Linked DNA regions of Homo sapiens: region 1 is linked to region 2. A link means that fine-mapping ties the variant in region 2 to the expression of a gene that starts in the linked region. Tissue or cell type: prefrontal cortex. Region 2 holds a variant in brackets; the other region holds the start of a gene. All regions are shown on one strand. Distances are between the middles of the regions.

The links. PIP is the estimated chance that this variant, and not a neighbour inherited with it, causes the effect.
Region 1: it holds the start of CHCHD6, and the variant in region 2 is fine-mapped to the expression of CHCHD6 in prefrontal cortex (GTEx, PIP above 0.99). The same link has a PIP of 0.9 or more in anterior cingulate cortex, caudate, cerebral cortex and nucleus accumbens.

The regions. Positions count from the first base shown.
Region 1 is chr3:126,700,739-126,708,841 of GRCh38, reverse strand. CHCHD6 (coiled-coil-helix-coiled-coil-helix domain containing 6) reads right to left here and starts at 4,602. Exons shown (of 8, transcript NM_032343.3): 1 at 4,443-4,602. The coding sequence starts at 4,529. RefSeq lists enhancers at 3,351-3,902, 4,963-5,022 and a silencer at 4,213-4,412.
Region 2 is chr3:126,956,913-126,965,015 of GRCh38, reverse strand. CHCHD6 (coiled-coil-helix-coiled-coil-helix domain containing 6) reads right to left here. Exons shown (of 8, transcript NM_032343.3): 7 at 7,465-7,600; 8 at 4,596-4,820. The coding sequence ends at 4,815. Among named protein-coding and RNA genes, the nearest start is that of PLXNA1, 22 kb to the left of the region's middle. RefSeq lists enhancers at 2,366-2,912, 2,913-3,461, 4,559-5,106. The variant C/G (reference allele first, on the strand shown) is at 4,738.

The DNA.
Region 1 (8,103 bases), 260 kb after region 2:
CTGGGAGTGGGAATGGGGAGTGACTGCAAACAGGTCAAGGCATCTTTTTAGGTCTTGTAAATGTTCTATAATTGGATTGTGGTGACAGTTGTCCAATTCTGTCACCACAGTTTACTAAAAAGCATTGAAATGGGTGAATTTTATAATATGTAAAATGATGCATCCCAATAAAGCTTTTTTTTTTTTTTTTTCAAGAGATGGGGTCTTGCTACACTGGACTCGAACCACTGGGCTCAGGTGATCCTCCTGCCTCAGCCTCCCATGTAGCTGGGACTACAGGTACATACCACTGCACCTGGCTTACAACTGTTGGTTTTTGTTTTTAAAGAAAAATCAGTGTCACCAGACAGAACCTTTCCAAAGCTCTGCTCCTGACCAGAGAACTGCAGCGTGGCCTCCAGAATAACATGTTCACAGCCCTGCCTGGCATTTGGGCCCTGAGTCTGGCCTCACCACCTGCCACATCCTCAAGCATCCTACCCTCCTTGTGGCTGCCAAGCACATGGGCTATGGAGTCAGAGACCCTGAGGTTCCAGCACTGTGACCTTGGGTTACTTCACCTCACTGAACCTGTTTCCTCACTTCTGAGATGGGGATAATGACCCCTCACAAGGTAAGCATGTGGAATTTCTGGGGTGATGCTCTGAATACACTTGGCAGAGTGCTTAGCACAGAGTGAATATGCACTCTTCATAGGGCTGGCTCAGGCCACAGTCAACATCTCCTCCTGAGAGGCACTGCCTGACCATCCCACCTCAAGCAGGCAGCCCCAGTAGCTTTTGCACCCTTTTTGTTTCCTCCTTAGCTCTGGCAGCTCTTTGAGTCTTTTGCCTGTGTCTCTTCCTTTCTGGTCCATTCTCCCTACTGGGCTGAGGTCTCTATGATGACAGGGTCCTCGGCTTTGTCCCTCATTGTCTCAGCAAGGCCAGGCCCAGTGCTGGGCAAGTAACATGAAGGCAGTGGACATTCACTGAGGTGAGGAATAACTGGCAGTTGCAGGTGCAGCGCTCTGGCACACGGCCTCTCTGGCACTGGCACAATGGGGGACTCTCTTGTGTGTCTGACCACATTCTTCTTGATCTTCCCCTCCACCGTGGTCCAGAATCAGCCTCATGGGAGCAATGCATGACGGTAAAGTTGATCAAGCCTGGAGGGGATAATGACTCTGGGAACATGCAAGTGACTGGAACAGGGGTGGGCTCAGTGGTGGGAAAGGGGGAAAGGCTGGTGAACAGTGAGCAGTCTGGATGCTCACAAGCAACCAACATCAGCTGAATCACCAAAAAGGGCGGCTCATGTGGAGAGGAGGAGAGGGAAGGCAGACACATATGCGCCATGACTGCCATGTGTGCCTTCTCTTACTGAAGGATGAGGTTAAATGTACTGGTTAAAACAAAATCTTTACGTATTTCACACATTTGCTCTGAAAACTGGAGTTGAATATAACTGCAGCATTTTGCATTCATTAAATTTCTTTTACCTTCCATGGAATTACGGTTTGAACACACTTTGTGAATTTATGCAAACTAAGTATGTAAACTAGCAAGGCCTAGCACTTAATCTTTTTTTTTTTTTTTTTTAAGACGGAGTCTCTGTCACCCAGGCTGGAGGACACTGGCATAATCTCGGCTCACTGCAACCTCCCCCTCCTGGGTTCAAGGATTCTCCTACCTCAGCCTCCCAAGTAGCTGGGTGTACAGGTGTGTGCCACCATGCCCAGCTAACTTTTGTATTTTTGGTAGAGGCAGGGTTTCACCATGTTGGCCAGACTGGTCTTTAACTCCTGACCTCAGGTGATCTGCCCACTTCGGCCTCCCAAAGTGCTGAAATTACAGGCATGAGCCACCACTACCAGCCACTAACACTTAATCTTACAGGGACGAGAACACTTTCTAAGACCAGGCCTCAGGAATTAAATACAAATGGTCATTAAGAATATTCAACTTGCTCTAAAGAAGCTGGGGCAGATCTTCTTTGGCATCTGCTTCTCATTAAATGAACTGATTTGTTCCCTTTGGCAACTGTTTTGTTGATCTGGCAATCTTTTTCACTCACTTGCCTAAAGACAAGGTGAATTCCTCAACCCTCAAGTAACTCTGCTAACAGAAAAAGCCTCTACACCAAAACATCCTTTCTTCATACCATCACCTCCTTTCTTCAGTTTTCCTCTTTCAAACACAAGCAGAAGGAAGGACGTGGCTCTCATAACGTGGGGCTGTGCACCTTACTGTGCACCTCTGGACAAGTCATTTATCCTCTCTGATTAGTTTGCCCAGCTGGAAAAGAAAGCAGTCAGTCACCAAAGTTCCTTCCAGTTTTAAAACTAAGTGGGGCACTATCATCCCTGTCAGGACAGGTATGGGTATTGTCACAAAATTTTCAGGCTGCCTTGCATACATCATGGGGGGGAATTGCAGAAGTGAGAAAAAGTTGCTTTTTGCACCGAAAAGATCTTAATTAAAGTCCCAGAAGTTACTCAGGTTAACACCTTGGGCAAATTCCTTAACTCCTTTAAGCTCAATTCTCCATCTTTAAATACAGAGAATTTATATGTTGCAGAAGTATTTAAGAGAACTAGAAATGAAATGTACCTGTCTTATATAATACTCAAAAAACATGAGGTTTCCAATCAACTTGAAAGAAGGCACCCCCAAAGGCACTCCCCTGAACCTCTGAGGACTCCAACTTAACTTTCCAACATTCCCCAAAACAGGAGACCAAATCACAAGGGTGAGAGCACCCAAACAGAGCCAAGCTTATCTTTCTAAATTCCAATTCAGGTTCCTCCCTCTCGGCCTTCCAACACAAGCCATCTCCTCCCCCATTTAATCCTTGCCACGAGTGAGGTCCACAAAACTATACAACGCCTAGCAAGCACCAAATGTGCCAAGTACTCTGCTAGGCTAAGAAGAGAGGCCTCCACAAAGCACTCTCTCTGTGCGTTTCCTTAACACTTTCACAGACATCATCTTATCCTAGGCAGTACCTAGGATACATACACACCCAATTTTTTTTTTAATGTGGCCATTGAGGCTCAAAAGAGTTTTTTACCCAAGGTCACACAGCTAATGAGCACCTGCCAGAACTCCTGAAGTCTGTCTTTCTAAGCCACCTCCCTAATTCCTCCTTAATTAACTAATTCATCTACACCCAGCTCTGTGCGTTTCATTTAATCCTAGTCCCTTTTACTGGGTTCATTCATCTCTCCACAGTTACTTACAAAGCACCTGCAGGTGTAGACACAGGTGGAGGAAGAGGCCGAGCACAGCAACATGCCCTGGAATTGGCTTGTTTCAATCCCAGCTCTCCCACTTACTATTTACATGATCTTGGATCAGTTCGTTCACCTCTCAGTGCCTCACTTCTCCTTAATCTACAATAATGGGCTAAATAGGGCTGTTGAAAATTAAATCAGTTAACTTATAAAGGGTTTAGTCCAACGCATGGCCCCTACACTGCAATAAGAGCTGCTTTTATTCTTCTGGGTTCTGGGGACAGTCTTCAATCAGACAGGAACCTTAGCCTCAAAAAGCTTACACTCTAGCAGTAAACGCAATAAACAAGTAAACAATTATCAACAGAAGCGATCACTGTGATGAGTGCTATGAAAATAATAAATGTTGGACGCGGGGTGGGAGGTTACTTCAGATTGGGTGGTCAGGGAAGGATTCTCTGGTGATATCTGAATTACAACAAGAATTACAAGAAACAGCGGGATTTAAGGAGAGCTGAAGGAGAGAGAACAGCCGGCGCACAGACCCTGAGCTGAGCCAGCGGCACCCTCCAGGAAAACACGGCGGTCCTGAGGCTGGGGACGAGGTGCGGGTGCCACGCGAGGGAAATGGCACGAGATGCAGTCCCAGAGGGATGCAGTCCCCAGAGGTCGACGGGCAGCGGCCAGCTTTGGAACCAGGGAAGGCATCATCCAAGCGCGCTAGGAACCCACTGGAGGGTTTCAGGCAAGGAAGGGGATCAGATCTGAGCTATGGTTCTTCCTGCGCCCCGCAGATGTGCTGTGGAGAACAGGCCGGCGGGGAAGAGCTGAGTCCCCAGGCAAAGCCCAGGTGGGAGACACCGCGTACCCAGAACGAGATGCGCGCACCTGAGGGGCCACGGGCTGGGAGGCCGGGCGCAAATTCAAGAAACGTAAAAACTAAGCCGACCGGAGCCAGGACGTGGCCAGGGCGTCCCTCGTGTCCCAGGGGCCTCGCACCTGTACAGTTCTTCACTCCTCCTTCCCTGAAGCCCATGTCGCGAAGCTCCAAGGCTGCCAGCCTCGGGCTCGCGTCTCGGCTCAGCCTCTTCCTGGCCTGAGCCCCCGGAGTCTCCCAAGCCCCACGCCCCTCACGCGTGGAAAGAGCCCCGGCCCTGCGCTCCGCCCCGCACCTCCCCCCCGCGCCCGCGGCCTCCACGCCCGCCCCGGCCCAGGCGGCGCCGCTCACCCGGACACCCTGCAGCACCCGGACCCGCTCCTCCTCGTCCACTCCGAAGGACACCCTGCGGCCCTCGCTGCTCTCCGTGCTCCCCATGGCGAGATGCCGCAGGGCCGGCAGCCACCAGACCCGAGACCCGGCTCCAGAGCAACCGGGCCAACAACGCTTTCCAGGACTCGCGCGGCCGCGGCACACGCCAACAAAGCCACGTCCTATTGGCCGACGCCAGAGGCTTCACCAATCGGGTGGCGCTGAGTCGCGGTGCCTTGTGGGGATTGCAGTCCTTCCGTCTGGAGGGGTGGGGGCGTGGCGGTCTGTGCCTGCTAGAGTGCGTTAGGCTGAGGCCGAAGATGTGTACCGGCGGAGGCCCTGGAGTGGAGGGCTGGGTGCAGGACAGGGTCACGTTCTCGCTTTGGGAGCTCCCCCTTGAGGGAGAGCCAAGGGTGATGTTCTGAGGCCAGGAGACGCCGAGACGGCCAAGGCGCTCATCTGGAGGCGAATTTCTGAGGGTTCACTGCTCCATTCATTCAGCAAACACGTGTAGAGCAGCACGGGCTGAGCGCCAGACGAGCAGGGACCTGGCCCTGGCATTACAGCGCCCCTCAAGACAGCGAGTGTCCTGCCCTTGAGAGGTTTACAGTGCAAGGGGAAAACAAGTGAAAAGCCAAACACGCACGCAAGGAAACTGACTGTAATACACGGAAAACTGCATGGCGATGCCACTAGTAAAATGAACAGAAGGAGGCCTCTTTTAATTTCAGTGGCCAGAGCAACCTCTGAGGAAGAAGCTTTGAACTGAGCCGGCGGGAGAGTAGGATTTATGTAGAAAAAGGTAGGGGAAGAGGTTTCCTGGGAGTCTCAGGCAGGAAAAGAGAAAGAGGGGTCATCCCATGGCTGGAAAGTGAGAAGAGGGCAGAGGAGTGGTGAGGACCCAAATCATGTCGGGTCTTGTGAGGCAGGGTCTGAGTGTGGGTTTTATTCTAAACGCCCCGGGAGGACAGGGAATGGTCCTAAGCCGTTAGGAGGCATTGCCCAAGGAGTGTACATACCATGTGTGGAGTGCAGTGTGCCAGGCATTGTGTGTAGGCTTCTTACACAGGACCCTATGTGTAAGGGAGCACACAGACGGTTGCCAGTCATAGACACTGCTACCTTCAAATAAGCCCCTTTTTGTTCCTCTGAGTTGCTGAATGGCTTTGATTTGCAAAAGTGCGCCTGAAGCCGAGCTGAGGAAAACTAGATGGCTACATGAAATAGCCAGAAAATATTTGGAGCTCCTATTGGCAACCTGGAAAGAAAGGGGTGAGGAGGAGAGAATGATTGAGAGAGAGCAGTAAGGCTCTGAGATTGAGAATAGCTCAGGGTGAAGAAGCTAGTAAACATCCCAGAGCTGGTGTGACGATGGAATCTTTAGGAACAAAGGTGTCTGCTAGTTTCATTCAAAATACTTCATTGGCGCACCCCACTCCATCACCTCTGTCGTCCATTTCTTCCCTATAAGCAGAGCCTGCGTAGGGGATTCTGGTGCAAGGAGTTTCCTGGGGGAGCACCTCAGGAGAAAGGAAGTTAGGGAGACAGGCTAAGAGGGGTGGGGACCGGGGGCCGCGGGGAAAACTGAGTAAAGATGTGGTCAGACCTGGTCCTGGGCTTTCCTTTGTCTCTTTTCCTTGGAGGTTTATGATTACTAATTCAATCTCCTTACTCGTTATTGGTCTGTTCAGATTTTCTGTTTCTTCAAGACTCAGTTTGGATAGATGGTATGTTTCTGGGAATTCGTCCATTTCTCCTAAATTATCCAGTTTCTTGGTGTATAATTGTTCATAGTAGTTGATTATGATCTTTTGTATTTCTGTGATATCAGTTGTAATGTCTCCTCTTTCATTTATACTTTTGTTTATGTGAATTACCTTTTTTCTTGGTTAGTCTAGCTAAGGTTTGTTAATTTTGTTGATCTTTACTGTTGATCTTTTCTGTTGTTTTTCTAGTTTCTATTTCTGCTCTCATCTTTTTTATTTCCTTCAGTCTGCTGACTTTGGGGCTTAGTTTGTTCCTCTTCTAGTTCCTTGAGATATAAAATTAGGTTGTTTGATGTCTTTCTTTTTTCTTAATGTAGGTATTTTTCGCTATAAACTTCCCTCTTAAAAATGTTTCTATTGCATCCTATAAGTTGTGGTACCTTGTGTTTCCATTTTCATTTGTCTCAAGATACTTGTTTATTCCCCTTTTGATTTATTCTTTGGCTCATTGGCTGTTCAGGAATGTGTTGTTTAATTTCCGCACATGTGTGAATTTTCCAAAGTTCTTCCTATTACTGATTTCTGACAACAAACTATTCAAAAAGAAATTAAGAAAATGATCCCACTTACAATAACACCAAAAAGAATAAAATATGAATAAATTTAACCAAGGAGGTGAAAGAAAGATGCACACAAAAAATTGCACACTAAAAATTATAAGACACTGTTGAAAGATACTATAGGAGACATAAATAAGTAGAAAGATAGCCTGTGTTTATAGATCAGAAGAATTAATATTGTTAAAATGGCTTTACTACCCAAAGTAATCTACACATTCAATGTCATCATTATCAAAATTCTAATGACATTTTTCACATAAATAGAAAAAACAATTCTAACATTTCATATGGAACCACAAAAGACCCCAAATCATCAAAGCAATCTTGAGAAAGAAGCAGAAAGCTGAAGGCATCATACTCCCTGATTTCAAACTATATTACAAAGCTGTAGTAATCAAAAGAGTATGGTACTGGCATAAAAATAGATACATAGATCAATGCAGAAAAATAGAGAGCCCATGCATATATGGTCTACTAATGTTTGATAATGGTGCCGAGAATATACACACTATGGAGAAAGGAAAGTCTCTTCAATAATTGGAGCTGGAAATACGGGATATCCACATTCAAAAGAAGGAAATTGGACCCTTGTATTACACCACATAAAAAATCCATTCAAAATGAATTGAAGACTTAAATGTGAGATCTGAAACCCCAAAACTCCTAGAAGAAAACATAGGTGGAAAGCTTCTTATCATTGGTCTTGATGATAATTTTTTTGGCTATAACACCAAAAGCACAAACAACAAAAGTAAAAATAAACGAATGGTATGACATCAAACTAAAAAAGCTTCTCCACATAAGAGGAAACAAGCAGCAAACTGAAAAGGCAACCTACAGACTGGGAGAAAATATTTGGGCACCATATATCTGATAAGTGCTTAATATCCAAATATACTCTATAAGGAACTCACACAACTCAATAGCAAAAATAAATACCCAATTTAAAAATGGGCAAAGGACTTGAATAGACATTTTTCTGAAGAAGACATGTGAATAGCTAACAGGCATATGAAGAGCGCTCAACACCACTAATCATCAGAGAAATGCAAATTAAAACCATGGTGAGATATCACCTTACACCTGTGAGAATCAGTATTGTAATAAAGACAAGAGAAGTGTTGGTGAGGATGTAGAGAAAAGAGAACCCTGCACACTGCTGGTGGGAATATAAATTTGTAGAGCCATTATGGGAGAGAGTATGGCAACTCCCCCAAAAGTCAATACAATCTAATAATCCTATTTCTGTATAGTTAACTTTAGCCTAAAGCTGCTTCCTTGTAAGTTCAGCCTAAAGGTTGATCCATACATAGT
Region 2 (8,103 bases):
ATGGCTGCTGATCTGAGTTACCTCTCACACTATCCCATCTGGGTTTTCAGTTCCTCCATCTCCTTTGTGACCAATCCCTTGCATTCAACTCCCCCTGCTCAAAAGCAAGGGTGCTGTTTTCCTGGTTGGACCCTGAATGATACAACCAATGTCATCACCAAGCAACTGGTGGGATGAGTATTAATACTCCTGCTTAAGGGTCACTCAGCCAGGGCATGAGCCTGCAGCACCCGCCTCCAGGTGCACACCCTGCTGGACACACCCCTCACCTGTGCATTTCTCTCTCAGACCTGACCTCCTACCACACACGTGGAGGTACTGAGGTGTAGGTACACATGAGAGCACACACACATTCACATTCCAATGCAGTGTTACAGATGGCTCCAGCACACACACAGTCTCCAGCAGGGGAGGGGCAAAGATCTGGCTCTGAGAAAGTGGAGAAATGAGATGATATCCAGGCTGGGAAGAGCCCGTGAGGATCCGCAGGTGCCGAGCATGGCTGGCTGCTTGTGCACAAACTCAAGTACACATGCACAGACATGAACACATGTGAATGGACAGGTACACACACACATACCTATGCACATGCTTGCACATGTGTGCTGGCACACCATGCACTCACGTGTGCACACACATGGATACACACGCAGGATGGACATGTGCACACAGACCCATACACACACACTTGCGTACTTGGACACACAGTTCACATGAATGCACACACATTCGCACAGTCATCCTGCATGGTGGACACCGAGACCCAAGGAGAGGAATGCACAATGTCATGTGCACTGTCAGGAGCTCGTTCCCTCATCCCAATCCAAAGCCCCCAGAAAACAATGAGGGAGAAAGAAGTGGATAGAAATGGTTGAACATGCCCTGGTCCTTCAGGGGTGCTGGAGTTTGGGGAGTAGAGCCCCATCCACTGGAGCCCCCCAGGCCTGGCCTCCAGCCCCTCAGGTGAAGACTGTAGGGACTCACTCACAGGAGCCTCCAGCCTCTACCTAAAGGTGTGTAGCTGTGGGTGGGGGCACAGAGGGGTGGAAGTCGGAGCTGGGACCCTAAGGATGGATAGGAGCTCACCAGGTGAGGTGTGTGTGGGTGCCTCACTTCCAACTGGTCTGGTTGAAGAAATCCCAAAACGCTTCCCCCACCTCCCTATCAGTGCCTCAGACTTTGCCACTAGCACGTCTGTCTGCTCCTCTCCAGTTACAAAGTCCATTCCTGAGTCTTGCCCTGTGGTCCCTATGGCAGAGTCTGTAGCTGGGCCTGGGATAGCTTCTGAAGCTGCCCTGAGGGGAGAGTCAGTGTAAGCCAGTGCTCCCCTCCCCAGGCTGGGAAGAGTCAAACCTGCCACCTCAACTTGGCTCAAAGGAAAGGGAAGCCAGGCGCTGACAGCAGATCATTTGCTTCCCAGAACAACGCTCTCTCACAGAGAAGTCCTGTTGCAAATGACAAAAACCCAGTTCAAACAAAAAGGGAAACTTGCTAGCTCATGTTAACTTCAGGTCTGGCTGGATCCAGGTGCTCAATGACCTTGCACAGTCTCTCCATCCCTTGGCTGTGTGCCTCTGCTGGCTCTGCTCTCTAGAACCCTCTCCCTGTGTGGAGGTGAAGGTGGTGGGAAGGGGGGAACAGGAATCGTTGATAGAGTTGGGGAGAGTGGTTCTTCAGAAAACTTGAAAAGCTATTTCTAAAAGAAGACGGGTGGATGCAGAGTGGGCCACAGGTGTTCCCTATAAATCTTAGACACTGCTTTAGTTGTTCTGTAATGAGGAAACTGAGGCTCAGGCCTAAGGGAATTGCTGGCCTTTCTTGGCAACCAACAGGAGGCAGAGTCAGGATTTAAACTGAGGCCCCCAGGCCTGCAGAGCCTGTGGATTTTCCTGTGTGCACCGGGCTCCCTTCCTGCCTGAACCCACTACAGGAGGTGCCAAGACCCGGACTCCAGGGAGATGCCAGCAGGCCCGGAAATGCTGAAGAAGCTGGTAATGGTCCTTACATCTCATTCATTCACTAGTCCTGGTCCCCAAACGACTCCCTACCTGCCTATACCAGGGACCACAGGGGTGGCTAATGGGAGCCCACGTCAGGCTGGTCTTGAGAAGCTGGCAGGCTGTGCACACACTGTGTTGCCTTTGGGTTGGAGGCCTGTGTCGGGGCTGGGTGGGCACCCAGGAGGAGGGCTGCGAGGACTCACACAGGGCTTAACCCTTGAGTAATGTGGAAGGAGACCAGAAGCTCCCGCACAGAGCCTGGAAGAGGAGGAGGCTAGAGCCTCAGGCGCGGGCCATGAGCCAGACATGGAGGTGGGAAGTGGACAGACTGGTCAGGGTCAGGCGTGAGTCTTATTTTCAGGACCAAGTGGAAGTTTATGAAAATCCAGCAAGATCTGGGGACAGATGTGTGGATTTGGGGGTGTGGGAGGCCCAGGGCTAAGGACACTATGGGGAGGAGGGAGAGGGGTAGGCAGACCTGGCCAGCCAGAGGCAGTGGGGGACCTCAAGGAAGGGCCCTGGATTCTGCATGAGCCCCTACAGAGCCTTATGGCCCCTGCCCTGCACCTCCCACACCTGTGGCCTTGCTTCCCAGCTCTGCTCTTTGGCCTTCAAACCTTCATCAGCTCCTGGTCTGAGTCAATCATGCAGTGACGTGCGGGCAACGGTGCCATCTCATGAGGCTGCTCTACCAGCCTCTGTCTCTGGATGCTTCTTTGCACAGGCCCTGCCCAGGCAGGAAAGGGCTGTTGCTGCTACCCGCCACTGCCACTGCCGACCTCGTTCTGGCCTCATTCCCAAAGCAGGAGGTGGCTTTGTGGAGCTCAGAGGCCAAAGAGGTCTTTTCACTCCTCTCAGGCCAACTGCAATCTGACCAGACTGGCTACCAGGGAATGAAGGAACCAGGGGTTGCAGGCAGAGGATCAGGAAGTGCTTGCCCCTGGAAGCTGGCTCTCTGGCTGTGCTGGAGCCTGAAACTGGAACCTGAGCTAGCCTGGAGAAGGAGGGGCCATTTGGAAGAAACCATGGGGCCGCTGGCCGCTGGACACAGGAGGCCATTTGAGGTCACAGGTCTGTTGGCTGACATGAGTGGGCCTGGGCCGTAGGCTCCACCCAGCAGAATCATGAGCCACATAAAATGGGCGTTGTTTTAAGCTACGAGGTCTGGGGGTGGTTTGTTACCCAGACAGAGCCAGCTGGTACAGGCTCAGACAGCATCCAGCCCACAGGTGTCTGTGTACCTGGGAGTCTGTTTCCCACCCCAGGATGCGTCCCCAACCCCCAAAAGTGACACCTGGAGGAGAGGATGAACAGCTGAAAGTTATTCCTGTGAGATCTGAAGTTGGACAAAGCCCTGGAAGCCAAATGCTTCTGAGGGAGTCAGAACAGCATGGTGGATAGGCCTGACCTGTGACCCCTCACCCCTCCTCTTAGTAGGCCCCTCCCTGAAGGGCTCAGGCCAGGGTGCCCAGTGCACCCCACCCCTCCTCGCCGCATCACACCACATGGAGTCTCCTTGTGCATTTCCACAGGCTGACCCGGGACTCCTAGAAAGGGAGTCTCCCAAAGCTGTCTGTCTGGCTGCTAGTATACTACCCGCCCAGCCAGTAGGACACGCCCAAGCCCCAACCCACCCCTTGAGCTCTGAGTGTGAGAATCTGAGAAGGGAAGTTTGTGCTGCCAAGCCTGAGTCAAGGCTGCAGGCTTTCAGCTCCAGATGGCATGGGGACTCCCCAAGGGCTCTATCAGGAAACCCAAGGTCACCGGCAGAGCAGTTAGAGGATCCCAGGCTCCAACCCAAAATCCTCCTGCTGGCGTGGTACAGGCTGAGTGTGGTCAGGGCACCTTGGCTGGAGGACGTGGCTAAAGGACAAGGACTGGAAGTCCAGTGTTTGGACACCAACCAGGCAGAGCATGTCCCAAACCCACTTTGTCATCTGCCCTCCTCAATCCCTGCATTCCTTATTTTAGAACCCCCAACACCCAAGTCAGAGACTTCAAAGTCACCTGGCCTCTTCTGTCGCTCAGTCGGTTTCAGTCCTGCCAATCAGCCCCACTAACCCGCCCTGGGCTTGAGCTGTGCGGGGCCCTCCACACTGGTGATGTTCCCTGGCATCGAGTCCTGTCTCCCTGGCACCACCTGACAGCCGGAGCAACATCACTCAGAGACAGTGCCAACTCAGCCTGCTGCACTGCAGTCCTGCCGCCTCTGCAGCCGCGCCGCCTGCCTGCCTTGACCACCTTTGCTCTCCTCCACTGCCTGCTGCCCTCACACCTGGGATCCCCTCTGCTGGGTCTCCGGCCCGCCCTGCCCTCGTCTGGTCAGCTTCCGCCCCGGGCGCAGGCAGCACTCGCTGCAGGAAGCTGGCCTGCTCTCCCTCTGTGCCATCCCTAGAAAGGCCTGCTCCCTTTCCTTCTCCTCCCTGTTTCCGCGGCAGCCTGCTGCTGCTGCTGCTGCTGCTGCAATGTAATTAGGGGTTCTCAGGCCATCTCCCCTGCCAGGCCAGGGACTCCCCGAGGGGAGCAGCCCATCTTCCTCAGCTCCACTTCGCTGGTGTCCAGCAGAGGGCTGGACGCAGAGTAGGCAGCAGTGACTGTTTGCCAGTGAGTCAACGACTGAAAACAAAGGCATCTGCTTTATTTGTTTTCAGACAGTAGCGCATACTTTGTTTCCTAAACACGTGGCAGCCCCAGGCTCAGGGGCATATGCAGGGGCCCAGCAGGAAACGGCAGGGCA[C/G]AGTGGCTGTGGTCCCATGATTGGTCCCTTCTTCAGGGCTCCAAGTCACTGCCAGGGCAGGGAATGATGTCTGCTCCTCAGCCCTACAAAGAGAACAGGTCAGAGTTGAGTCAGGGCCCACTCCGCCCATGCCCTCCAGCTCCGTGCAGATCGCCCTGTGACAGCAACCGCTTCCCAGGGAGCAGCTGTGAGTTGGTCTCCCTCCTCACCTGGAGACCCATCAGTGAGTCTCTTCACCTCTGTACCCCGGAGCCCAGCACAGTCCCCAGCAACAGGGGACGGGCCCTCACTCCACACGACAGTGACACCAGAACCCGCTCCCCTTTCCTTTACTCTCCCAGGGCTGGCTCAGAAGGCAGGTCCCCTGCCCCTGCCCCCTCAACCTGCTGCGGTGTTTCTGACAAGCACCCTGGATATAGAAGAGTCTAACCCAACTCTGCTCTGCCTCATCAAGGCCTCCCCTCTGTTCTCTGATTTTTCACAGCTCAGCAGGAGCCTGCTGGGATGCTGGGGTCCGCACAGTCAGGGTCCTGTGGTGGACAGCCTGAGGCCCCTGTCCTCATCTGAGATGCCCAGCACATCTGCACACAGGCAGGTGCCAGGCTCTGGGCCTAGGCATCACCTACCTGCCCTAGGAGCCCCAGGGCAGATGTTAGATCCTGGAGAGAGAAGCAGTGCTGCCCCACCCCAAGGCCCTTGACCATGTGGGCCTCTGTCCCCTGCTGTTTGGCCCCTTGCATAAGCAAATCCCTCTTAGGGACCCTTCACTCCCCGCTCTCTGGTTCTGCCAGCAGCCTTCTGAGGCGAAGGCTGGCGAAGGGTGGTGAGAGTTTCTCCAGCACTTGCCACATCTCACACACAGGGCACCACCCAAGTGCCTGGGTGCTGGGGCTCCGAGGGAGTCAGGTTGAATATGCCGTCTCCAAATGCACACACACTGCCAAGGCAGCACGTGGGGAGAGCAGGCAGGCCTCTGGCACTGCCATTGCTCAGTCTCTGGTTTCTTTGCTAGTCATGTCAGGGGTAGGGGCCGGGAAGGAGGGAGCCAGACCTGGCAGTGTCCCAGAGCCTCTCTCAGGGAATACACTGGGGTTTAATGTGATCTGTCTTCCTTGGTAATCACATTTTTGCCTTGGTGCGAGGAAGATATATTGGTGAGGTGTGTTTGTTAAAGAAATACTCTTAGGGGTGGTGGGTAGGGGCTGAAAACTACCACAGAGGTGGGGCTGGATGGAGAGAGGATGGAGTCTAGGGCTGGCCACTGAGGCGTAGGCCCTGCCAGGAAGCCAAGAGGCTGCAGCAGATCCCTCGGTAAAGAGTTAGGTGTGTGATGAACAGAGACTCGGAGCTGCCCTTGATTGGGTGTGTGGAGGATCTGGAGGCTTCACTTTGCTGGTGAGTAGGGAGCTAAGTGTCTGGTCGGTGCGAAGGGCCCTGGTCTGGCCCAGCCTACCCAGTGCCCCAGCGCCTCCTGCCCACGTGGAAGCAGAGTGAGCAGCCTTCCATCCTCTGAGATGGAGGAGGAGGCCGCCTGTCCTACCCAGGGCTTCCCTCTCTTGGAAGGCTGACAGAGGCCTTGCGACCACTCATCCTGTGTGGAGCTACTTCTGGGCTGTGTTCTGGCCATGAAGGGACAGTCGGTGCTGGACGGGGCTGTGACCAGCAAAGAGTGGAACAATCAGCCTTGGCAGATGGGTGTGAGCAGGGCATGACCCAAGGAAGCTCTTGCAGGCCTGGGGCTGCAGGACCCCGCTCAGTTCAGTGGGACAGATCTCCCCTTGGACATGGCTGGAGAGCACAGAGCATCTGGCCTCAGCCTTTTCCATCCCAAGTACCTAAAGCAGCCTGTCTCCTACTCAGGCCAAAGAGGCTTTTACGTGGGAAAGGAGACCTCGTCCTGTTGTTTCTCCCATACATTTTCACAAACAGGCCGCACTCCTTGGGGAGCCCAAACTAGGTGTTCTGAGAGTGAATGATGCTCCCCAAGGTGGGAGCTGTCCTGTTGGGGTGGGGCAAGGGTGAGGTATGGCTGGGAACAGCCTGACTGCACCAGAGGACGCTACGGGACCTGGGAAGGGGGAGGACTTATCTAGGATAGAGAGCAGCAGTTGGGGGTGGGGGAGGAAGGCAGTAGGAGCTGGCTGGGAGCGCATCACAGGCATCCAGGACAACCGAGGCCCACTGGAGTGGGAGGTGACCAGAGAGCACATGAGGCTTGGGACCACTCACCAGGAAGGCCAAGCCAGCACACCCCTGTAGACCAGCTCAGGGCAGGGTGGCTGTGAGCAGCTTCTGATGGCCACATCTGCTCCCACTCCTCTTCCAGATGGCCTATCCTTGCTGGGACCCCCACTCTGCACTCGGGCCTCTGCCACCCTCCCACCCCTAAGTGCCGAGGGCTAAGAAGTCCCCGGCACCCACAAGGGGCCCGGCCCTTGAAGGTGGGGCCTGACTTTACCCAGCCTGCTCCCACCCAGCCTAATAGGGCAAACGCAACAGGGATCATCTCCCTGGGGCCAGATGTCCAAGGCGCTCCTGGAAGCAGCCAGGAGAGTGTGCAGGTGACTGAGGAAAGCGAAGAATCCCTCCCTTGGCAAATGCAGAGACCTCCAAGTGGAGCATCTGATTCTAACAGGAAAAGGCAGGCAGAGATCTCCAATGCTAGATAGAGGTACCTCGCCTACCTCCCAAGGCCCTTGGAAACCTGGGAGGCAGGCAAGGCCTTACCTTGTGGGCGGCGCTCACGCAGCGCTGGTATGCCTTGACCAGGTCCGAGCACAGCAGCACCTCATGCGGGCGATCTCGGTAGCAGTGGAGAATCTGGGCCTGCAACCCTGAGCAGACGGGCTCCACCCTGCGGGGCCTGCAGAAGACAAGAGCAGGCAGGCCTGGGGCTCAGGTGCCAGCAGGCAGGGGAGAGAAACAACTCACATTCACTCCACCTACCTCCCAGGCGCTAGGCTAAGTCCCTGACACCCAGCAGCATCCTTTTAACCCTCAAGGAGAAGCACTGTGCTTTCCCGTTCTAGAAATGAGAGGACGGTCGCAGGGTCAAGCCCTGTGGTGGGTGGCTTAGGCTCACAATATAGCAGACACTGAAACATGCTGTGGTATGGGGCTCCACACCGGGCTCCTTCACTGGGGCCTGTGTACACTCAGGAGACAGGAAAGCCCCACTGGAGGGCCCCCATGAGGATGGTGCAGCCCGCCTCCAGGACAACCCGCCCCGCTGTGCCCAGGATAGCCATCCCTTTATGCCTGAGACAGCCCGCCCCACTGTGCCCAGGATAGCCGTCAGCTGCTTTCCTGGGCTTTCCTGTGCCTGTGGTTTACCCGTGACTATAACCATGTGACTTATTTTTTTTC